7 linked regions of the Homo sapiens genome follow. Changing the gene in region 6 together with the main gene of any one other region gives a genetic interaction. Each region holds a gene or a part of one and is shown on either strand. Other genes may lie near its edges.

Evidence for each region.
Region 1: changes in RAB2A (region 6) and SEC23IP together harm fitness more than expected from each alone (negative genetic interaction), as found in Homo sapiens cells (one large-scale study listed by BioGRID).
Region 2: changes in RAB2A (region 6) and CARM1 together harm fitness less than expected from each alone (positive genetic interaction), as found in Homo sapiens cells (one large-scale study listed by BioGRID).
Region 3: changes in RAB2A (region 6) and MTF2 together harm fitness more than expected from each alone (negative genetic interaction), as found in Homo sapiens cells (one large-scale study listed by BioGRID).
Region 4: changes in RAB2A (region 6) and RICTOR together harm fitness more than expected from each alone (negative genetic interaction), as found in Homo sapiens cells (one large-scale study listed by BioGRID).
Region 5: changes in RAB2A (region 6) and ARF1 together harm fitness more than expected from each alone (negative genetic interaction), as found in Homo sapiens cells (one large-scale study listed by BioGRID).
Region 7: changes in RAB2A (region 6) and TBL1XR1 together harm fitness more than expected from each alone (negative genetic interaction), as found in Homo sapiens cells (one large-scale study listed by BioGRID).

Annotation. Positions count from the first base shown.
Region 1 is NC_000010.11:119,941,230-119,944,729, reverse strand, and holds the end of SEC23IP (SEC23-interacting protein), read right to left. Parts: 3' UTR 73-3,500; downstream 1-72. UniProt on the Homo sapiens protein: Plays a role in the organization of endoplasmic reticulum exit sites. Specifically binds to phosphatidylinositol 3-phosphate (PI(3)P), phosphatidylinositol 4-phosphate (PI(4)P) and phosphatidylinositol 5-phosphate (PI(5)P).
Region 2 is NC_000019.10:10,916,553-10,920,052, reverse strand, and holds part of CARM1 (histone-arginine methyltransferase CARM1), read right to left. Parts: intron 3,358-3,500; coding exon 3,276-3,357; intron 459-3,275; coding exon 373-458; intron 177-372; coding exon 87-176; intron 1-86. UniProt on the Homo sapiens protein: Methylates (mono- and asymmetric dimethylation) the guanidino nitrogens of arginyl residues in several proteins involved in DNA packaging, transcription regulation, pre-mRNA splicing, and mRNA stability.
Region 3 is NC_000001.11:93,110,283-93,113,782, forward strand, and holds part of MTF2 (metal-response element-binding transcription factor 2), read left to right. Parts: coding exon 1-146; intron 147-262; coding exon 263-344; intron 345-3,500. UniProt on the Homo sapiens protein: Polycomb group (PcG) protein that specifically binds histone H3 trimethylated at 'Lys-36' (H3K36me3) and recruits the PRC2 complex, thus enhancing PRC2 H3K27me3 methylation activity.
Region 4 is NC_000005.10:38,955,900-38,959,399, reverse strand, and holds part of RICTOR (rapamycin-insensitive companion of mTOR), read left to right. Parts: intron 1-78; coding exon 79-205; intron 206-568; coding exon 569-733; intron 734-880; coding exon 881-957; intron 958-1,669; coding exon 1,670-1,748; intron 1,749-3,500. UniProt on the Homo sapiens protein: Component of the mechanistic target of rapamycin complex 2 (mTORC2), which transduces signals from growth factors to pathways involved in proliferation, cytoskeletal organization, lipogenesis and anabolic output.
Region 5 is NC_000001.11:228,085,708-228,089,207, forward strand, and holds part of ARF1 (ADP-ribosylation factor 1), read left to right. Parts: intron 1-3,500. UniProt on the Homo sapiens protein: Small GTPase involved in protein trafficking between different compartments. Modulates vesicle budding and uncoating within the Golgi complex. In its GTP-bound form, triggers the recruitment of coatomer proteins to the Golgi membrane.
Region 6 is NC_000008.11:60,593,487-60,596,986, forward strand, and holds part of RAB2A (ras-related protein Rab-2A), read left to right. Parts: intron 1-3,500.
Region 7 is NC_000003.12:177,019,483-177,022,982, forward strand, and holds part of TBL1XR1 (F-box-like/WD repeat-containing protein TBL1XR1), read right to left. Parts: 3' UTR 1-3,500. UniProt on the Homo sapiens protein: F-box-like protein involved in the recruitment of the ubiquitin/19S proteasome complex to nuclear receptor-regulated transcription units. Plays an essential role in transcription activation mediated by nuclear receptors.

The sequences.
Region 1 (3,500 bases), on a different chromosome or scaffold from region 6:
CAAACTGTGCTCCTTTCAACAAGAGTGAATGCTATTAAGCGGCTGCAAAAATAAAAGCACCACTAGAAATGCTTTCTTTAAAAATTGTTTAATGAAAATCACACTCAACACATTCACATAGCTCTCTCTCTGCATTTCGTGCTTAACAACATAATTTCTTCAGTCGCCCCAGTTGTGATGTTCTTTCCAACCTCGCGTCTTTCCACAGGTCTGGAATGCACTGTCCTTTTTCCGTCTTCACCTGGCCACATCTCTTTACCTGTCTTTTAGGTCCCTGACTGTATTAGTCCATTTTCACACTGCTATCAAGGTACTACCTGAGACTGGGCAATTTATAAACAAAAGGGGTTCAAGTGACTCACAGTTCTGCATGGTTGGGGAGACCTCAGGAAACTTACAATCATGACGAACCTCGGGGAACTTACAATTGTGACGAAAGGCAAAGGGGAAGCAGGCACCTTCTTCACAAGGTGGCAGGAGAGAGTGCAGGGAAAACTGCCACTTTTAAAACCATCAGATCTTGTGAGAACTCCCTCACTATCACAAGAACAGCATGGGGAAACAGCCCCCATGATCCAATCACCTCCCACCAGGTCCCTCCCCTGACACGTGGGGATTACAATTCAAGATGAGATTTGGGTGGGGACACAGAGCCAAATCATTATCACTGACACCACCCCTGAAGCTGGGAAAAGGGCACATGGGGATTCACTGTACCATTCTCCATACTTTTGAGTATTTGTGAAAATTCCATAGTAAGGTCTTTTAAAAACCACTCTTTATACAAGAAATGAAAGACAAACATGGTGGGTTATCCCAACCACACCAGTCCCACCTGTCCATGAACCTGAACTGCAGCACATCCACTAACGAATATGTAGCATTGCCCACTATCTCACAGATGTGTCCTCAATAACCCCTGGCCTGTTTTATGTGTCATCATAAAATTTCATATATTGAAATATGTGAAACTCATTTCACTTAATCTGAAGCTGAAAGAAGTATTAAAGAGCTGGAATTATTTCCCAAACTCCCACTGGTGTTAACAACATGACATTATTTTCAGTGTTCTCTGGGACCAATACATTCGGGAAATCTGCAAGAGTTGCTGTTTTATTTTTTATTCATTTATTTTTTTTTGAGACAGAGTCTCGCTCTGTCACTCAGGCTAGAGTGCAGTGGCGAGATCCCAACTCACTGCAACCTCCACCTCCTGGGTTCAAGCAATTCTCCTGCCTCAGCCTCCTGTAGCTGGGACTACAGGCACATGCCACCATGCCCAGCTAATTTTTTTTATTTTTAGTAGAGATGGGGTTAACCCCCTGAGGAGTATTATAGAAATGTCATGAAGACAGGTTAGCTGACAGTCTGTCCCGTGCACCGCAGGGACAGTCAACAGCAGGAACACAATGTCAGCACCCCAGCTCATAGAGGAACTGAATTCTATCCACTCTCCTCTGAGGACCCAGCCCTGGGAAACTGACTCAAACTAAGCTGGAATGCCAACTTATTAAGTTACAATGAGAACTATAACTTGGAGGAAAACCAAAACACTCAGTGTCTGCAGTTCAAGTTTCCACCAGAAAGCTGCTTGGTAAACACTAAAGTACAGCATTAAGATAGTTAGATGCCTCAAGTCATAAAAACCTGAAACAATGGTACTATAAATACCAATCATCCTAGGTTTTCTGGGATAATCTTCAGTACTCTTATCATGAGACCAAATGCTGTGAGTTACTATTTCAAATACATGATCATCCCTGCCAAGATAGCGGCATCTCCTCCTTTTCATGTACAGGGTTCTATATAGATCACACCTTTCCAATAACATACTTACCTCAAAAATCACTCGAATCTGTGCAGTTTCCTTGTCTTATACTGTGGTTTTGAGAAAACATGCTTGTCTGGTTGGATTCAAGAAGCACGCGTGTCCAGCAGACTTAGAAAGCAGGTTCCTCTTGTCATACAGCACGTTAACATAGCTGACGAGGCCTGGGTGTCTTCATCAGTACTGTGATGACTCTTTCACCTTTGACTTCAGATGCTGGCGCTTTTTACTTTTTGTGCCAAACTCTACACATGAAACACTTTTGGAATAACTACAGACATGACTTTCTTTATCTGGGGAAAAGGAGGGCATTAAACCAGATTAGGGGCTGGGAGGGGAGGTTGTCAGGGGATGAGCTGCTCCTGAGGAAGAGGCAGAGATCAAGCTTCACTCAGCAGCTGGATTCTCACCTAGTTTATAGACTGAAATCCTGCAAGGTGGTTACAACAGTGAACAATATGTTCATACATAAAGACTCTACCCTCAGGGGATCTACTGTTTTTTGGTTTTTAAGAGACTGAATAGTAATACATACATACATACATATGTGTGTGTGTATATATATATATGTATGTATGAGTATATATATCCACAGGCAGAGTCACTCAAAAATTCTATTTTCTGTGTACTCAAGTATTAAAATGAAAGGGCAAGACTGCTGCCACTCAGCTGCCACATGCTTCTTCTACGAACCCTGGTCCTTCTCTGCCCATTACTCAGAAGACAGGCTGAATGACACAAACAAAAATCAGATGTAAGTTGAAAAATCAAATTGGATTTTATTGAAATGTATATAAATAACCCTCATTTTTCTTTATTTCATCAGTATTGGGAAATTAAGTGAAAAGTAATTAAAAAGTAGTAGTCCTGAGAGAGAGAAATGAAGGCTGAAAGGGAATCAAGAAAACCATATTCCATCCCAGATCTGCCACTACCCAGTCTGGGAAAGGCATTTATTGTCCTGGCCTCAGCTGTAGAATGAGGTGGCTGAAATCTATGTTGTCTGGAGTCAATTACAGCTCTACAATCTTGCTGTTCTAATTCTACCATTAGGAGCCAATGCTAACGTTACATACTGACCATATAAGCAGGTACTCAAAATGAAAAGGGAATAAACACTGAGTTCATGGGGACACTTTTAAGGAAGACAAGAGAAATACATAAGTTTGCTGCTTAAAAAATGCATTAATGTTACTGCTTTATTCACACTAATTAGAATACATACACAAAAAATGTGTATCATATATCACTTTCAAAAATTTCCATGTTCCATGAGAACTATGTAAACAATGCAAAATGTTTCCACTACGTAACAAAAGAAAATCAGCATTCCCACATAGTATTAGGAAAATATTTGGATAATCTGAATTTATAGTAAAACAAAGTGATCTGAATTTGTAGTAAAACAAAGTGAAATATTACAAAGCAGTCTTGTCATGAAGTAGCCTTATATAACTCAGAAGCAACACATTTCATACTTTCAAACACTTTGGTATAAGTGAAATTAATAGAAAACAAAAAGAAGAAGAAAAAAACCTCTACTTTGGTTTTCACATTATTGGAACTTCAGCAACAAGGCAAGTGCACAGCTACCTTGGATGACAAAATGGAAAACCTCTCATCTGCTTGCTTCTCCTCCTGGAAATGGACGTGCTAGGAGAGCGCTTCCCAG
Region 2 (3,500 bases), on a different chromosome or scaffold from region 6:
CATGTTCCACCCCCCCAGCCAGGTTGCAGCTGCAGGAAGCCCTGGGAGTGGGGAGGAGGCAGCATGGGCTGCTCTGCGGCACTCACATGGAGCCGATGAAAGCAACGTCAAACCAGAAAGCCAGGCCGTGGACCAGCCCTGAATGCAGCATGTGGAATTTGAATGGGATTTCTATCCTGGAAGGCAAAGGGCAGTGGCTGCTGGGGAAGCCAGACAGGCGCTGCCGAGAGAGAAGAGGGGGTGCCAGGTGCAGAGGCCTGGGGCCCCCGCCCACCATCTGCCCTGGGACGGCAGGATGCCGGCGGGAGCCAGGGGTGGCCCTGACCTTCGGCCTGAGCCAGGCCTGGGAGGATGGAGTGTGGGTGCCAGTACCTGTGCAAATCTCCTTCTTTGGCTTCTAAGAAGTTCACCGTGTACTTGACAGACTTGGCCATCAGGATCCGGATGTCAAATGTGTCCTGGGAGAGACCACAGGTGTGACGTGGCATCTGACGCCAGGGCCAGCATGGGAGGGGAGAGCCCTGCCCCTTCCCCCAGGTCTGCCCACGGCTTCTAGGCTGTGCAGCTAAAACGAGCTTGCTCTTCCCAGACACGCCGTGAGGAGGGGACCGGCACAACGCCACCGAGGGCAATCAGGTGACAGCTCTCCAAATGACAAGTGTTTATCCACATAAAAGATTTGGCACTACAGGAGTTTAACCTCCAGATACATGAACACATCAACAAACTTACATGTATAATTAGATTGTCCGTGGTAGCGACACACTGGAAACCATCTAATTAAACCAGTGATGGCTCTCCCATCAAAGACCATGCGGACGTGAGAAAGAATGAAGAGGCTCTTTATGAACAGATGAGGAAAGATCTCCAAGCTAAATCATTAAGCAAGTTAACCAAAAAAGCAAGTTAAAGAACTAGGTGCTAGCTGGGTGTGGAATTGTATGCCTGTAACTCCAGCTACTCAGGAGGCTGAGGCAGGAGGATCGCTTAAGCCCGAGAGTGTGAATCAAGCCTGGGAAACACAGGGAGACCCTGTCTCTTAAAAACAACAACAACACTAGTGCTGCTGTCCACTCCCAGCAATGTTTATATCCGACTAACACACCTGCCATGAACTATGTAAACCGAATAAAATCCAAAGAAAAGAATAAACCAGTTGTTGGAAGCACTGGTGACCAACCAGAGCGGCCAGGATTTTGGGGATCAAGCTCCTGGAAAGGAGGGAAATGCCCTTTCTGGAGGGAGCCCTTTCTGGCCTCTACCTTTTCCCCATGGGGAGGGCAGAAAACGGCCACCTCGACCTTTCAGCAGCTTCCTTGGGTGGGGAAAGCAAAATGGGAGCTCAGGGTTACCAAGGCAGCTCGGATTCAAGGGGCTGTGATGTCAAAGCAAAGGGAAATAAGTGCAGGAGGGCAAGGTGGGCGGTGCACACTCAGTGCGCTTGTGAAATTGGCCAACTCCTGAGCTTTGAGCGAGGCAGGGCATCAGAGGCTAAGACACCAAGCAGAAAGCCGCTAATAAGAGGCTCAACGCCAGGTGCAGTGGCTTATGCCTATAATCCCAGCACTTTGGGAGGCCGAGGCGGACGGATCACCTGAGGTCAGGAGTTCAAGACCAGCCTGAGTAACACAGTGAGGCCCCATATCTACAAAAAAATAAATTAGCCGGGCATGGTGGCACACTCCTATAGTTCCAGCTACTTGGGAAGCTGAGGCAGGAGGATCACTTGCGTCTGGGAGATCGAGGCTGAAGTAAGCCATGAAGTGATTGAGCCACTGTACTCCAGCCTGGGGAACAGAGTGAGATCCTGTTTCAAAAAACAATAAAAGCTAACGGGTGGTTCAGCAGCATATTGGTAATGAGGCTAACCACTGGACTTGCATTAACATTACCAAAGGCTGTACCATAAAGCAGCACCTTCTCAAACTGTGGCCTCTTCCAAGGCACCCTCATCATAATACAAAATTTGCATAATACCACCAAAATATTTCCTGCTTTTTTCACTCATTCACTCCCCAGTGATATCACAAAAGACTGAACACGCTGGGCATGGTGGCTCACGCCTGTAATCCCAGCACTTTGGGAGGCCGAGGCAGGCGGATCACCTAAGGTCAGGAGTTTCAGACCAGCCTGGCCAACATGGCGAAACCCCATCTCTACTAAAATTACAAAAAACTAGCTGGGAGTGGTGGCAAGCGCCTGTACTCCCAGCTACTCAGGAGTCTGAGAATCGCTTGAGCCCGGAAAGTGGAGGTTGCAGTGAGCTGACATCATGCCACAGCACTCCAGCCTGGGCAACAGAGCAAGACTCCGTCTCAAAAAAAAAAAAAAAAAGAAAAAGAAAATGAGAGAAAAAAATGGATGGAAAAGACAGAAAAGAGTATAACAATCATCTGAGATATGGTGAAAAGGTTCACTGTACACGTAATTGGAATCCCAGAAGGAGAAAGAATGGGGCAGACGTAGTGTTTAAAGAGATAGTATCCAAGATAGTCCAAGAGTCTCCCAAAACGAATGAAAAACATCAAGAGCAGGGGGAAAACAGAATAAAATGGAACCTTTTTTTCTTTTTTTTTGAGACGGAGTCTCACTCTGTCGCCCAGGCTGGAGTGCAGTGGTGCGATCTCGGCTCACTGCAAGCTCTGCCTCCCGGGTTCACGCCATTCTCCTGCCTCAGCCTCCTGAGTAGCTGGGACTACAGGCGCCCGCCACCACGTCTGGCTAATTTTTTGTATTTTTAGTAGAGATGGGGTTTCACCGTGTTGGTCTCAATCTCCTAACCTCGTGATCTGCCCGCCTTGGCCTCCCAAAGTGCTGGGATTACAGGTGTGACCCACTGCACCTAGCTTTTTTTTCCTTTTGATTTTTAAATCATGGATCTATGTATCAAAAATCTCAAGTAAAATCAATCAATAAATCACATCAGCTCACCAAGGATAAATTCATCTAGTAATGGTTCTTTTTTATTTTTATTATTTATTTATTTTAATTTTAAAAATAGCGATGGCGTCTCTGTGTTGCCCAGGCTGATCTTGAACTCCTGAGCCTAAATGCCCCCTCTGCCTTAGCCTCACCTAATAATGTTCCACATGTATTGCATGTGTGCTGTGTGCTAAGTGTCTACATGCATTGACACTTTTGGCCCAAATCTCTGTGAGAGCGCTGTGCAGGGCAGAGGAGAGGGCTCAGAGAGGGGCTGTAGCTTCCTGAGGGCTGCACAGCTGCACAGCAATGGCAAGTGATCACTGCAGCAGTACCCTGGAGGCCCTACTCACCACCACAGGCTGCCGGAAATACTCATCCACCGCGGCACCTCGGAGGGCCGACAGGTCCACTCCATGGAAAGATGGCTGGTACCTGTGGACAGGCCCCACCCCCACAGCAAGGTCAGGGCTGCAGAAGAGGCAGGTGGGGTAGCCCTGCCTTCTCTCCCAGTCAGCCCTCATCTAGCCCAAGTCTTTCAGAAAAAGAGGAGTGCAGGCTCTCTGGGGAGCTGGGGC
Region 3 (3,500 bases), on a different chromosome or scaffold from region 6:
GAAACCAAAAGACCCCAACATCCTTGACCAAGCTGTCTTTACAGGATGGACATAAAGCCAAAAAGCCAGCATGTAAATTTGAAGAGGGTCAGGATGTCCTAGCTAGATGGTCAGATGGCTTGTTTTATCTTGGCACTATCAAAAAGGCAAGTTACTTTAATGTATCTTTTGCTGTTTTTGCAGTAAGCATTTAATAATCTTAAATTTAACTTCATGTTTTTAATTTTAAGAGATCACCGTTAAGTATTTCTCTGTATTGCAGATAAACATATTGAAACAGAGCTGCTTCATCATATTTGAAGACAGTTCTAAATCCTGGGTTCTCTGGAAGGACATTCAAACAGGCAGGTGCTACTATTTCTCTTGAACATGATTTAAATTAAAATTTGATTTTCTTCAACTTGTCATATTATGATGTTGTCTGTTGAATACAGTGTATTTAGATAACTCAGTATTACTTCCTAGGAGAGGTTAAAAAATCAGCATAGTCGTTATTATAGACCATAAGAAGAACAAGAATACTCTAGAGGACAGATGCATCACTAATTTATACCTGTAAGCTATGTTAAGACCCTTCTAAGAACTTTGAAGAAAAATCTTTAGTAACTAATCTCAGTAACGGTTTGGGATTCAATTCAACTGTTGCTTGCTTATATTTGTAGAAAGCAAGTGTTTATTGGGAGCATACTGTTTGTCAGATGATTTGGGAAATTAGGACATATAAAACTGATTTAGAATAATAGAAATATTCGTTAATAAGAATGGTTTAAAATTACCATTTAGTTATGGGTTTTTTATGTTTAAATGGGAAAATGAGGCTATATTTGTGTGCCAATAAAAATGAATGAAAGTATGCCTTGGTTTGGTTATAGGTATGCTTCTTGTGATGATTTCTATTATTAGAAACCATGATTGTTTCATGCTTTTAGCATCTGCTAAATATAGATGTTTTACCAGGTACCTCTTTCATGCAAAGTACTTTTAAAAATTACAATCTCTACTAAAAGCCTGAGTATTTTAGCTGTTCATTAAAGCCCTACTTTTGGTTTTCCTTTTGCTGGGTTAATAGGCCTACACTAAGACCCGTGTTTTGTGTATTCTCATAGAAAAGAGATAAATTTTCTCCCTAAAGGGTAGACACCTTGCCAAAGTATTTAACAATTGGGTTTTATATTTGAATACCAAGTTCAATTTTATGGTAGGTTTCTGCCATGTTTTAGTTCTTGACTTTACTCTTAATGTTTCTTAAAGAATAAAAAAAGTTTTGGTAAAGGAATTGGAATGTTCTAATTACCATCTGTATAGTTGGTACTCAGGGCTTAGGTGGGGAACTAAGTAGCTTTTACTCTGGTAAAATGTTTTTCTGGAGAAACTTTTTATGGTTCCTGGACTGATAAGTTTAAAGGACTAAAATTACATTTTGAATCTGAAATTGAGGAGCCAGAGAAAAGTGTGACTCATAAGATTTAAAGGGATAGGAGATCTCCAACACTACTAATATTGAGCAGATCTTACTACCCTGCACACAAAATTATTCTTTTTTCCTTATTTTGTAAACATAGGTCTCTCTGTAATAGCAGTGAAACATGTTATGCTGCTTTTTACTCCCCTTCCATTAGCTATGTGTTTCTTTCAGCTTTTGAAGATCTTTTGGAGTTTCCTGTGGATTTAATGTAATAGGTCTGTCTGTCCTTTTGTCTACTTCCTCCTTTCTACTTCTCCTCTGCTTTTAAAAGTGGTAGAAAAGAAGAAAACCAATGTTACATAGAGATAGAAAGTTGTTGTGTGAGGGGTTCTATAAGTCCTGCACTCAGTATGTCAGTTTAATGTTCTGTGGTTGTTCTTTCTTCACTGGTTCCTTTTGCTGTTCTTGGAATTACAAAGGATTGCTCCTGGTCATTTAACTCTTCTTAGCACCCTGATATTAGCACATATGAAACTTATAGTTGCTATAAAAATGAATAAATGAATCTGAAACCTGCGTTATGGCATATTTCAGTGAGGAGTGGGTTTAGTAGTTTTCTTCCCTGTAAGAAATCTGCCAATAATGTATATCAAAACTTAATAAATTATATTTGTCTAATGAGTTTCTTTTAAAAATTTTACATAAAGAAAAATATTAGTAGTCAACAGGGTGAAATATATCATGTTACAACTATTACATAAATGTAAGAGGGTTTTGAATCTTAGCATCTAATGCTGTTTTGGTTTCTGTGAAATGATATACTCTTGCATTGCTGGTGGCAGTGTAAATTTCTATTTTGGTGGTTTAGCATTTGCATTAAATGCAGAAGTTTATAATTATCTAATAGACTCCTTTCTAGCAGTTTATTCATAAGAAGTAATTCAAAAAATACTAGGTGAAAAATGTTTCCTGAAGTTTATTTTAACAACAACAAAAAATTTGGTATTTCTAAGATGAAATGGCCAAGGCTTTCTAGTCAATTGGATTTAGAGTAAAGGAGACTATAGAAGATTACTAAGCTATATAGGAAGGTTCTTGTAAACTTGATGGTAAAAAATATATACATATATGTTTGATTTCACAAGTAAAAGTTAATTCCCAGCTTTCTCAGGATTGTTTCTTGGGTCACTACCCCCTTTTCTGAGGAATTGCCTTCCCCATCATTAGTCCAGGTAGTTACAGTGAGAGTCAGGTCAGGCACCTCCCCTCGCGGGGCTGTTGTTCCATTTCCAGGGAATTGTAAATTTTCACAGAGAGTTCCCAGGCTTAATCTGGTTGCTCTCATGATCGGAACCATAAACCCAGAAGCTATGGGAGACCACCTTCAACGAAGTGTACCAAGAAGCAAACAGCTGGGCGCAGTGCCTTATGTCTGCAATCCCAGTGCTTTGGGAGGCCCAGGCAGGAGGATTGCTTGAGCCCAGGAATTTGAGACCAGCTTGGGCAACACAGGGAGATCCTGTCGCTACAAAAAAAAAAAAAAAAATAGGCATGGTGACACACACGCCTGTGGTTCCAGTTACTTGGGAGGCTGAGGTGGGAGCATTGCTTGGGCTTGGGAAGTCAAGGCTGCAGTGAGCTGTGGCTGTGCCACTGCACTCCAGCCTGGATGACACAGCAAGACCCTATCTGAGGGGAAAAATAAAAGGAAGCAAACAAAGCAGAAGAGAGAGGATGAGAGACCAGAACAAACAAATAAATAGCAGAAATACAAAAGACAGATTTCTCCCCCTCCAAAAAAAGAAAAACAGTTGGTAACCTGTATGTCCGAGAGTAGAGTAATAATGAAGTAAATTGGGTTATTTCCACTAGATGTAATACTATGCAGCTATTAGAAGTTACAATTTTGAAATGAAAAATGATTTTCATTTTCAATTTTGAGTGAAAAATGCTTTTGATAGAAGAAATATTACATAGTATTGATGAAGCATCTCGTAGTGGAGAGAACATGGATTTTGGCACATCTGGATTTGAATCCTAGTCTTGATGTTTTCTCAGGGTCTTTGGGTTAGTTACTTTGTCTGAGCCTCAGTTC
Region 4 (3,500 bases), on a different chromosome or scaffold from region 6:
CTGGAAAAAATATTTGTTTAATTAATGTATCAATATAGTAATTTCTTTTAACCATTCTTATTTTTTTTTTCTTTTAAGTCTCCTTAATCTTTGCTCCTTGAAAAACCAAGATCACTTGCTAAAACTTACTGTTTCTAGCTTGGACTATAGCAGAGATGGATTGGCTAGAGTCATCCTTTCCAAAATTTTAACTGCAGCTACTGATGTGAGTATAACATAGCCAGTAAAACTATATTTATAACCAATTAATTCACTACTTTATGAATTTTGGGCTAAGTAAAATTAAGTTCTAAGAATATGATATGGAAATTGAGTTTACTTTAAAATTTTAGTTTCTCCAAGGAACTGCATATAGTACTCAGATTTTTGTATCGGGGGAAGAAGCTGCTAGATAGAAAGGGAAGTATTCTATTTCACAAGAACCAAAAAAGTATTCATATCAAGGGCTAGACCACCAATTCCAGGCATTCTTCCCTTTTCAAGTAGCAGGACTATCCCAAAATAAAATCAAATAGGCTATTTATGCTGAAGTTTTTTTTTTTTTTAATGTATTCATTTATCCTTATAGGCCTGCAGACTCTATGCAACAAAACATTTAAGGGTATTATTGAGAGCTAATGTTGAATTCTTTAATAATTGGGGAATTGAGTTGTTAGTGACCCAGCTACATGATAAAAACAAAACGATTTCCTCTGAAGCTCTTGATATCCTCGATGAAGCATGTGAAGACAAGGTAAAGGTTCATTTTTTATAATTTAATACTTAAATTTTTTTGAAATACTCATTTGACAATTATGTAAAAGTATATAATAGGCATTTTGGAACTAAAAATTTTGCTATTTTTGTGCAATTATAAAAAAATAATGATAATCTCTTTTAGGCCAATCTTCATGCTCTCATTCAGATGAAACCAGCGTTATCCCACCTTGGAGACAAGGGTTTGCTTCTCCTGCTGAGGTAAATTTTAAGTAAATTTTCTGTTATGTTTTTTTGTTGTGTTCTTTGGCAGTGTATATTAAAGATAGATTCAAATCCAAATGGGAAGTACGCTGAAGAGTTTACCTTTTAATATTGAAACATTGTCTTTTCATTATTTTGGGTTTTTCTTTTTTTTTAATTTTTTTGGTCTGTTCATACTTTTCATGACATTTTCCTTTTTTTTATTGAGACGGCCTCGCTTTGTCATCCAGGCCAGAGTGCAATGGTCCAATGTTGGCTCGATGCAACCACTGCCTCCCAAGTTCAAGTGATTCTCCTGCCTCAGCCTCCCAAGTAGCTGGGACTAAAGGCGCACACCACCACGCCCAGCTAATTTTTTGTATTTTTAGTAGAGTTGGAGTTTCACCATGTTGGCCAGGCTGGTCTTGAACTCTTGACCAGGTGATCCACTCACCTTGGCCTCCCACAGTGCTGGAATTACAGGCGTGAGCCCCCGTGCCTGGCTGACATTTTCTTTATTGTGATTGGGTTCGCGTGTTGTTGCAAAGATTGTGAAAATTTATTTGTAATTGAAGTTATAATAAATTATAGTTGACCTTTTAGTTTTAGGAACGAACTATTCCTAAAGTCTTTTAGCTCCTTATACTTTTTTAAATTTTAGTTATTTTAGCTTCTTAAGATACGTTTTTGCCAGACTCAATGTTAAACTATTGCTTGTTTTAATTTGCAGATTTCTCTCCATTCCAAAAGGATTTTCCTATCTGAATGAAAGAGGTTATGTAGCAAAACAATTGGAAAAGTGGCACAGGGTAACTTCTTATTTGAATAAAGTTGAATTTGTGTGTTTTTATCTTCTGAAATTGATTTGTGAATTTAGAGGATGGTTTTTTTATATCAGTGTTTTGAAATTAATAAGGTTAAATATTTAAACATCAATATCAAGTTGAATCCTAAATTCTGCATAATTGCTAGTATTTATAGTTATACATTTTTTTAAACTACAGTTATTTCTTTCATTCTGAACTGTTGACTGTATTCGTTCTATTGAAATTTGACTCTCAACTCATTTGATTTTATAATCTAATTTTTGGCCCTGTTTATCATTTCTTTCATTCTTCGGTCCCTTAATATGGCCTACAACTTTGCATGAGCCCTTTAAGCTAAAACCAAAATAATTTTTTTAAATGAAGGGAGATTGAAATCCCAAGGAGATATAATCATTTAGTTAAACTTTACTTTAGGATACTACTTTACCTAAATCTGAGAATGAACTTCTTGCTGTCATAGGGAAACCTGCTAAGAAGGGAGTAGTTTGAAGATATGAAACAACTTTTCTAGCTTTTCTTTAGCTGGTGATTGCTGTGGCTTCATTATTTTGTTTGAAGTATTATAAGTCATCGAAGCATCTTGGAAACCCATGGTCAAAATGATCTTTACCGATATAAATGATTTTTAGATTTTTCATCATTTCAGATCAGTTATCCTGTTTTCTCTTTTTTGTTAACATAGTTACACATTCTTTTATAGTGTCTATATTGAACCATATTTCATAAGAGATACTCCTTAAATGGACTAAAACTTCCAAGCATACAACTTAAGGCATGAAGTCTTTTAGTATTTGATGAATTGTAGAACTGAGACAAGATGTGATAGGTTTGTTTCCTAGAAGATATTTAAATCATCATAATAAAATTTATTATACAAATCATAGTATTAGAAAATTGCTTAGAATATTGGTGCAGTGCTTGAAAATAGCATAAAATATAAGAGCTATAACAAAGTTACATGCAAGGTATAAGGGAACACAGAGGAGAGATTAATGATTCTGCCTTAGGGATTATCAAAAGAAATGTTGAATAGGAGCCGTAGATGTGATACTTGAAATGGTCTTGAGGAGTAAGTAGGCAAATAAATTAGAAGAAGGGTATCCACGGAAGAAGGAGCAGAATAAAGCTGTATAGATCATTGGAACATTATAGACTTATGAAGAAAGTCATATTCCAATGTAGTTGGAACTAAGGTAAGTGTGGAGTGGCAAGATGAGGCTGGAATGGTAAATTAAAGCTAGATTGTAAAAGGCCTCGTAAGCCATATTATATCATCCTAAGGGATTTCAATTGTATATATAGTGGGGAATCCTTAACAGCTTTTAAAGAGTGATCAGAGTTGTGCTTTAGTAATCTGACAGGTTGCAGTGAAGAGGAGGAATTTTGATCATTGAAGGTAAAGTCTAGAAATATTGACACAAGTTTAGAAACAAGAATTGATGAGTGCCTGAACTTCACTGGTAGTTAGGTTGATTAGATGAGGACGCATTTTCTGGGTATTTTCAAAATAAGATGGACAGAATTTGTGGGCTGATTGGATACAGTAAATAAGAGGTCCAACTTGGCTCATAAGGTTTCTAATTTAATGACAATATATAATGGATCACTATTAAGAGATCACATTTATAAAAAGTGATTCAAGATTAGGCTAATGAATTTTCAATATGTTGAACTGGCATTGTCTGTGCAGTAACCACGTGATGGCTTGAAAATGTGGATCTGGAGCTCAGATTT
Region 5 (3,500 bases), on a different chromosome or scaffold from region 6:
CACAGCAATTGAAAATGATTCTGTTTAGAAGGCAGACATTCTCCCACACCCTTGAGGCCCAGGGCTCACTGCTGGTGTACAGCATGAAGTGGACAGGAGAGTTGATTCAGTCCATGAACATTTCAGGAAGTTAGAAGTCTATAGTTGTGGATTGCAAAATACATATCTGGCCTGCCTCCCATTTCCTGGCTAAAATACTTGGAATCTCCGAAGTGATGATGTCTTTTTGTACCCTAATGAGTTGACCAGTGATGGGCAGCCCCTACGAAACTTCAGGGTAGGGCTAGTCACAGGGCCAAGGCAGGATTAGAGGGTTTCAGCCCCACCCTCCAATTTTCCCAGAGTGGAGAGGGACTGAAGATTGAGCTGGTCACCAATAGCCAATAATTTAATCAATCACACCTATACCATGAAGTCACACTTTTGCCTTCAGTAGTTAACAGCATCTACAGCCCCGTGTTTCCACATTTGTACAAAGGAATGTTCAGACTGAACCACACTTAAGTACAATTTTGAAACAGCATGAGGCTGGGCGTAGTGCCTCACGCCTGTAATCCCAGCACTTTGGGAGGCTGAGGCGGGTGGATCATGAGGTCAGGAGATTGAGACCATCCTGGCGAACATGGTGATACCCCGACTCTACTAAAAATACAAAAAAATAGGCCAGGTGTGGTGGTGTGCACCTGTAGTCCCAGCTACCCGGGAGGCTGGGGCAGGAGAATGGCGTGAACCCGGGAGGTGGAGCTTGCAGGGAGCAGAGATCGCGCCACTGCACTCCAGCCTGGGCAACAGAGCGAGACTTTGTCTCAAAAAAAAAAAAAAGAAAAAAAAGAAACAGCATGAAATTCCTTGTTGATGGGAAATACCCGAAAGGCCTGCCTGGGTTTTCAGAGAGCTTCCAGAAAGCTGAATTCATGGAGGTTCCTGGAGAATGGCACAGCCAGGAGGGAAAGGTAGCGCCGTGTCTCTTCCCTCATACACCGCCCACTGCATCTCTCCATCTGTATCCTTTGTAACATCCTTTATGAAAAACCAGTAACCTTTAGTGTTTTTCTGAGTTCTGTGAGCCACTCTAGCAAATTAATTGAACCCAAGGGGAAGGAGTTATGGGAACCCTGATTTATAGATGGCTGTCCAGAAGCACAGGTAAAATAACCTGGAGTTTGTGATTGCCTCCAGGTAGACAGTGTCAGAATTGAACTGAATTAAACGACACCTAGCTGGTGTCTGCTGCAGAACGCAGAACTGGTTGCTTGCTTGGCATGTAGGGAGAAACCCCTGCTCATGTGGTGTGAGAAGCGACCTGTGTTATAAGAGTGTGTGAGAAACTGAGTTTGGGTTTTCCTATGTCCTCAAAATAGTATATTTTGAAAGCCTTCTAGGCAGAATGTATTAAAATAGTTTTTACTCCCTGAAGGGATGCCAGCAAGCTAGAAAGATTCATTTCCAAAGGGCTTCCAGTGGTAGCATGGCTAGACATGAGACATCTTTCCATTTGTGTCATACAGCAAGTTATTTTTGCAGTACCATATACGCTATGCGGGAAACTTTTAAGTATTTTATAGGTTTGATTTAGGTACAAATGGCCAAGAAGCTATCATCTATACTCATCCTGGGGATTGGGAACGGAGGCAGTTAGATGTGCCTGTGCTTTGTACCTTCTGTAGATGGGAATGCAGTTGCTCACTCACCAATCAAATTTATTGATTTATATTTAAAATACTATGAATACATCTTCTGGCAATTTTGGTGGTGACATTTTCCTTAAAATATTTGTACTAGCCAGGCACTGTGGCTCACACCTGTGTAGTGCAATCTACTTGGGAGGCTGAGGCAGGAGAGTGGATCACTTGAACCTAGGAGGTCAAGGTTGCAGTGAGCTGTGATCATAACCACTGCACTCCAGCTTGAGTAACAGAGCAGGACCCTTAGCTCTTAAAAAAATTTATACCTACTCATCAGCTGAGGACCTGGGGGCAGGTTTAGAAAACAGATTTTGAACACACATCCTTCCCTCCCTCTTGTGTCTGACATCACTGAGCTGCCACACTTTTGCCTTCAGTAGTTAACAGCATCTACAACCCCATTTTCCCACATTTTTATGGTCAAAAGAATGTTCAGACTGACCCACACATGAGTACAGTTTTTAAAAAGCATGCAATTCCTTGTTGATGCGATAGGTTTTTCGTGACGAACTTAATTTTTAGGGAAAGCACATCTGCAGATGTGTACAGTTGATCTTCATGAGCCCTATGGGCCTGATAAACATTCTTTTGCCATTGTTTTCTCCTCTCCTTGGTGGTGAGTCACTTGTGCAGTGCCCAGCGGAAGAGGGTGGGAGGCTGGGGAGGAAGGCCTGTTCTGGGCAAAGGAAGCCCTGCTTGATGAGCATGAGGCTCCACGGGGGCAGTGGCTGTGACGGTGAGTGCCACACAGAGCTGCCCACACTGGTGGAGGGAAGGCAGGGAGATACCAGGACCATCCGGAAGGGGCTGAGTGTCATTTGACAGGTGCCATGTGAGCAGAGATGTGAAGGAGTGGCCCGGGACAATCAGGGCAGAATCCCTGAGGTGAGTGCGCTGGCTGGCAGAGTTTGGAGACCTGTCAGGAGTAGGGTGCATACTGGGTGGGAAGCCTGCTGGGGTGTGCAGTGGCCCTCGGAGGGGGTCCGCGGTTCCCAGAAAAAGGAATTTGGTAATCTGTGGTGGCATTTTTGGGTGGCAGCACTGGCACCTTTGGCAGTGGCAAGAACACTTCCTGTCTGACCTTCATGTAGGGGAGGTCGTCTGATGTCCCAGACCTGTTATAAATATGAAAAAAAAATTTTTGTGCATAGTTTTAACAGGTGTTCTGAAGTTCCAGGAACAAAATCACCTTATAAATCAAAGATGACTGTGTATTGTTCTCTTCAGAATCACAGCAAGAATTCAGTTTCCAGAAGGAAAAGCTACAGTAGTTGCTTCATGGACATGGCTTGCCCTTGAGGTTGGTGGTGTCAGTGCATGAGCAGCCTGGTAAGGGTGGTTCTCTGGCCGCCACCCTTGGTCCTCTAGCGTGGTTGTGAAGTCACTTTCCTTTACTCCCCATTGCATCATAGTTGGGACAGAGCAGTGGTTCTCTGCCGTCTTGTGCGAGTGCTGGGATGCTGTCTCTACTTCCTTTTGGGTTGCCAGAGGCAGCATTTAGAGCACAGTGTGGGCATTATGTTGTGGACCAAGGCAGCCTATTGCAAGGACCTGATCGGGCGGCAGCCGTGGGGCAGCTCTGAGTAGAACATCGGGTCACCTGGCTGACTGGTGTGCTGAGAACACGCAGGAGGAGGCTGGAGACGGGGTTCTTGCCTGGGGAACAGGAGGGAGGCTACTCGCATCACAGCGGAGAATGCCTGTTGGGTTTGGGAGGGGGGTTTCGGCTGCAAAGCTGGCTGTCAAGGGGCAGGAATTGGGAGGAGGGTCTAAAGTCTTGAAGAGAAATGTGGGGTCGTTGTGTAGGGGCCACCA
Region 6 (3,500 bases):
AAGTAACCATTCTACTGTAGCCAAACATCACAGAAAAAATTGTGGCTCTGCTTCCACAATCCCCAGGCAGTAATGAAGTAGCACCCTACCACCACCATTTCCCTTGTTGGAGTGGAGTGAGAGGAAGCCAACTAAACAGTGGTTTAAATAAGACCCAGAGTCTCATAACATAGTATCTAAAATACCCATGTTTCAATAGAAAATCATTCATCATACCTAGAACCAGGAAGATCTTAAATTGAATGAAAAAAAGATAATAGGTGCCAACAGTGAAATGACAGTGGTGTTTGAATTATCTTACAAAGATTTTAATGCAGCAATCATTAAAATGCCTCAACAAACAAGGAACATGCTTGAAACAGAAGAGTCTTAGCAAACAAACAATCTGAGCAAAAGAAATGCAAGATAAAAAAAAGAACCAAATAGGAATTTTAAAATAAAAAAAAATACAATAATTGAAATTTTAAAACTCTTTCAAAGCTCTTTGTACACTAGAAAAAAAAACTTAGTGAATGGACTCAACAGCAGAATGGAGATAAAGGAAAGAAATAGTGAACTGGATGATAGAACAATAGTAACTACTTAGTCTAAACTGCAGAGAGAAAATTGAGGAAACAAATGAACACTACCTCAGGGACTTATAGGACTGTAACAAAAGCTGACGTTATATGATGCATCATAAGTCCTAGAAGGAGAGGAAAAAGGAATGGCTCTGAAAAATACTCAAAGAAATAATGGCTGAAAACTTCTTAAATGTGGCAAAAAGTATATAAACCTACAGATTGAAGACAGCCCCAAAGAGGTTAAACCCAGACAAATCCACATGATGACGAACCTCTGTATGGTCAAATTTCTGAACGTGAAAGACAGAAAAAAAAATCTTGAAAGCAGCAAAAAATAGCACCCTACGTATAGGGGAAAAACAGTTCTAATGATAGCAGATTTCTCATCAGAAACCATGGAGGACAGAGAAAATAGCACAGTGATTTTTGTTTGTTTGTTTGTTTTTATTATACTTTAAGTTCTAGGTTACATGTGCACAACGAGCAGGTTTGTTACCTAGGTATATATGTGCCATGTTGGTTTGCTGCACCCACCAAGTAATCATTTACATTGGGTATTTCTCCTAATGCTATCCCTCCCCCAGCCCTTCAACCCCCAACAGGCCCCGGTGTGTGATGTTCCCTGCCCTGTGTCCAAGTGTTCTCATTGTTCAGTTCCCACCTATGAGTGAGAACATGCGGTGTTTGGTTTTCTGTCCTTGTGATAGTTTGCTGAGAATTATGGTTTCCAGCTTCATCCATGTCTCTGCAAAGGACATGAACTCAACTTTTTTATGGCTGCATAGTATTCCATGGTGTATATGTGCCACATTTTCTTAATCCAGTCTACCATTGATGGACATTTGGGTTGGTTCCAAGTCTTTGCTATTGTGAATACTGCCACAATAAACATACGTAGCACAGTGTTTTGCAAGAGCAGAAAGAAAAGAACTATCAGCCCAGAATTCTTTACCCAGCAAAGAAAAAAAAGAATTAGCAATGAAGGTGCAATCAAGACATTCTTAGAGAAGGAAAAACCAAGAATTTATTAGTAGCAGATTTGCATAAAAGAATGGCTAAAGGAAGTTTTCTAATAGAAGTGAAATGATTGAAGAAAGAATCTTAGAACACCATAAAGGAAGAAAAAAACATAAGAAACAAAAATATGGATAAATATGATAGACTTTTTTCTTCAAGTCTTGCAAATTATGTTTGATGTTTGAAGTATAAACAAGTAACCACTGTCTGATGTGATTATCAGTGTATTCCACAATATTATAAGCCATGGGGAATAAAGGGATTTGATTAGCCCACAGGAAGGCAGGAGAAGGAAAATAGAAAACAAAGTAAAATGTCAGATGTAAGCCCTCATATATCAATAACTAAATGTTGGTGGTCAAAATACACAAATCAAAAGGGATTAGCAGAGAGAATTTTAAAAACAATGACTTAGCTATATGGTATTTATAAGAAACTCACTCCAAATACAACAGTACAGTTAGGTTGAAAATAAAATGATAGGAAAAGTTATACAAATATTAATCAAAGGAAAACAGGAGTAGCTATATTAATATCACATAAACTTAAGGGCAGAAAAAAATTATCAGAGTGGGACATTATATAATGATAAAAGAATCAGCCCTCCAGAAAGATGTGACAGTGCTAAACATGCGTGTACCAGATATGTGAAGCAAAAACTGATAGACTGCGAGGAGAAATAGAGAAATTCACAATTACGGTTGGAGACTTCAGCATCCCTTAGGTGCTCACAGAATATATACCAAGATAGACCGTGTCCTGGGCCATAAAATAAACCTCAATAGATTTTAAAGTATTGAAATCATACGGAATGTATTCTCCAAACAAAATGGAATTAAACTAGAAATCAGTTTAACAGAAAATAGGAAAATCTACAAATACTTGGAAACTAAACAGTACGCTTCTGTGTGTCAGTGAGCAAGTCTTGAATTACAAAAAACACATTGAACTGAATGAAAATACAACATACCAATTTGTGGAAAATAGCTAAAACAGTGTTACGAGAGGGAAATGTATATCATTAAATGCACACAATAGAAAAGAAGAAGTCTCTTCCTTATACGTTATACAAAAATTAACTCAAGATGGATTAGAGATTTAAACATAAGACCTAAAACCATAAAAACCCTGGAAGAAAACCTAGACAATACCATTCAGGACATAGGCATGGGCAAAGACTTCATGACTAAAACACCAAAAGCAATGGTAACAAAAGCCAAAATTGACAAATGGGATCTAATTAAACTGAAGAACTTCTGCACACCAAAAGAAACTATCATCAGAGTGAACAGGCAACCTACAGAATGGGAGAAAAATTTTGCAATCTATCCATCTGACAAAAGGGCTAATATCCAGAATCTACAAAGAACTTAAACAAATTTACAAGAAAAAAACAACCCCATCAAAAAGTGGGCGAAGGATATGAACAGACACTTTTCAAAAGAAGACATTTATGCGGCCAACAAACATATGAAAACTCATTATTACTGGTCATTAGAGAAATGCAAATCAAAACCACAATGAGATACCATCTCATGCCAGTTAGAATGGCAATCATTAAAAAGTGAGGAAACGGCCGGGCGCGGTGGCTCATGCCTGTAATCCCAGCACTTTGGGAGGCTGAGGTGGGCGGATCACAAGGTCAGGAGATGAGACCATCCTGGCTAACAGGGTGAAACCCCATCTGTATTAAAAATATAAAAAATTAGCCAGGCGTGGTGGCAGGCGCCTGTAGTCCCAGCTACTTGGGAGGCTGAGGCAGGAGAATGGCATGAACCCAGGAGGCGGAGCTTGCAGTGAGCCAAGATCACACCATTGCACTCCAGCCTCGGCGACAGAGTGAGACTCTGTCTCAAAAAAAATAAAAGTGAGGAAACAACAGATGGTGGAGAGGATGTAGAGAAATAGGAACACTTTTAC
Region 7 (3,500 bases), on a different chromosome or scaffold from region 6:
AGCATGCAGAAAAAGTAGCATAGGGTTAACATTTCATTGATGACAAAGCACTTTGGTACAGCAGAGAAAAGCACCATAAAACTACCATCTAAAGTGTCTTTTCCTCCACTGTATTTTTTCAAATGAATATATTGGTAAAACAGTAAACTTTGATCTGATCTGCTACGGATTATACTAGGTAATAAATCTAATCCATTGTAAAGTGTTAACTATGAAATTAAAAATAATCCCTTCTATTACTGTTCAAATTAGTTTCAGCTTTCCCTCAAGCTTATAAGGATTCTAATCCTTAGGAGTCCAACCCTTTTTGGAAAAGTATACAATGCAGGATATTACTAATAATCTATGCCATGCAATAAAAGTTAACCCCTTGAAAATGAAAGCATGTCAGTTCTAGCAACTGCAGTGGCTTATTTCTAATAAAACATAAAACTATGCTTGAATTTATTTCTGTTTAAGGAAATAAACAGGAAAAATAGAAGACCTAGAGAGTGTAAATTCTTAAAAAAAAAAAAAAGAAAATATGCTCAATGATTCTTTTTAAAAAGTCTCTAACTCTAAAGGAGTTGGTATTAATTAAAACTAGAAGGTGTCTAGTTGTTTTTCTTATAAAGTTTGTAGTAACAACTAGCTAAGAGAGAAAATGATTCAACTATAATTGGCTTGTTGTGAAGCAAAAAAAGGTCACCGAGAAGTTGAGCCTCCTGCCCTAATCTTCAACACATCTACACATTGTTTTGTGCTCAACCGTGTGGCTAACCAAACAAATGTTATCTAAGGTCTCTTTTTCAGCTTCTGTGAAATAACGTCTTTTAAATACAATATTTATTTTTCAAAAGAATTAAAAATTACAATCCCTTAGCTGATTAGATGCTCTATTATACTTTAATAAAAATAGTAAATAACCCCTTCATTTAAAAAAATCTTATCTCCTGCAAGAAGTAATAAAAATAGTAAAATTTGTAATTTTATTATGGGCTTAAAGTATATATCTTGGGAAACAATACGTTTATGAAAAACAGTGGTTTGGGTTCTGATGGCAGTTATTAATCAGTAACACCAGTATGGGAGAGAATGAATGTGTTATAGGTTATGAAGGCTAACTTGGAAAAAAAGGTTTATTCTACAATAGAACACTGGAGAAGTAAAAGCAATTAAAATGTAAACAAACTGTAAACAAGAAATACCATCCCTCTCTCTTTACCTGACTAGTAAATAGTCTATATAAACTACATAGACATCAAAGGTTTTATATATGTACACAGCCAACATAATATCAAAATATATTTTATTCTGGACCTCTTTCAGATCTGATTCAAATTACAGTTGTCAAAGCAATACAATGCAAAGGGGAACTGCAACAACAACAACAACAAGAAATGTGCCTAGAAAGGATAAAAGGGTCACTGGGGACAAATCATTGTGATGTGGAACTAAAATACGTCGTAAGTGTAATTAACATGGTCCAGGACAGCACAGAACATCTACATCAGTCTTCCTTACACAATAATCATGAAAACTGAACAATGAAGTTCTTTAACATGTACAAAAACCTGTCATGGGCTGGTTTACACTTTTACAACAGTTTTAAAGTTAACTGGATAACTAAAGAAATGATGCAGACATTTTAATCCAGTGCTATAGGTAGGCTCACAGAATTAGACCCAAAGGATTTGTAAAAACAAAAATGGAAACAGTATAGCTACAATGTCAAAGTCAGGAAAGAAGAAAATTTACTTCCGTATTCAAGGATTACAGAGCTACAAATGCAGTCTGTGTGTTTTTGTTTGTAATGAGATGGATAAGTACATCAGACTAGATACAACATGCAGAATGTTTTCCTGAACTTATCCGGAAATTCCAAAGAAAACATCATGAAACAGCTTACAAAAAAAAAAAAAATATATGCCCTAGTTATTCACCCTGCTTCAACACTGTCAACGTAAAGGCAGAAATAAAGCAAGCTATCAATACCTCAGAACTACTGATATAAGACATCAAATTTCTAAATCAGTGTATTAAAAAAGTGAACACTTCCTCTTTCTTCTCTCTTCTACATTTAACTAGAATCATGTTTAAAAAAAACTGATATTAAATGTGACACTTCAGAGCTACTACTGGAAGGAGTAATTCATAACTTCCCTACCCTCCTTCCATCCCTGCTGATTCAGGAGAAGGGGGAAAAAACAAAGAAAACAAAACGAAAAACCAACCAGGGTCTCTTGTAGATTTGCTGCTATTCCACAAAATGTTGGCATTTGCTGCCATGCCACAATGTTGGTCCACTGAAATAGGATTTCTGCGGAAACTGTCAACAGTAGTAATTCACCATATGCAAGTACCATCCTTATCATGCGAGAATAATCACAGGTTCTGTAGAAATGTACAATGTACTTAAGATAATGAAAATTGTAGCGCTGCATTTGAGATTTATTTCTCTACTTAGCTAGTAAAACTTGTCATTTTTGCTCACTTAAGTATGATCATTTGTGATTCCTTTAAATAGCAAAAATGCACAGTCCTCTTTAGGCCTCTACTCAATAATAGTTTACATTACTCTTAACAAAATCATTCTACATAAACAGATAGCTCCTTAAAAATAGTACTCTCTCATTAAATCTAATTTGACAGAAAGAAGTTTAAGGGAAAAAGGAGTGCTTTGTAAGTGAAAAAGTACAAATCTTTGGCCTTTCTCTTGACATTTTCGTATGTCAAAAAGCAAAAAACCTTCATGTATTTCAATCTAGTGATTACTTTTTGCACCATAATTTGTTTTTTACACCACAAAAGGAGGCACTTTCAGTATCTGTAAAAGGTATTTAATCCTAAAACATACTTACCTAGAGAATAATTAAAACAGAATTCAATACAATCTAGTATCTATTAGGAAATTAAGAGTTATCACTTCTAAAAGTCATTTGAAAGTCAATGATGTTATCTGGTCAATGGCAGGAAATGGGAACTGGAACAAATATAAGAACTTATGGGATTTCCTACACGGAGACAAAAAAAGATATTCCTTTATGTTGTTTAAAAGTGGCAGCTGCTCTTTCTTTATTCCATTTTAATCAATGAGTATTGATTCAAGTTTTCCTTTCTATTTTTCCTTATGATAAGTTTCTTACAGTAGCTTATACAACAACAAATAGCATAGAAAAACTACTGGATTCAATTGATCATCAGGAATAAGTTCTCAGAAAAACACAGGCGGAAAAATAAGCAAGAATCCCAAATACAGAACTTTACAAGCTGTGAAACTTGGTCTCTTGCAATCATGTTACTGCTCAAATTAGAGACAATCTTATTGCTGTCTATTGGAGCAGCATCGTGGCACATCAGCAGGCAATGATGATGTTGAGAACAGCAGCAAAAATAAACAATCGTATGCTCATGAAGAACCCAAGCCTACAAAATGGATACCTTTCAGAAAAGTATATACTTAAAAGACCCAAGACGTCAGGATAATAAAGCTCTGTATTTATAATCTTTTATATGTCCTA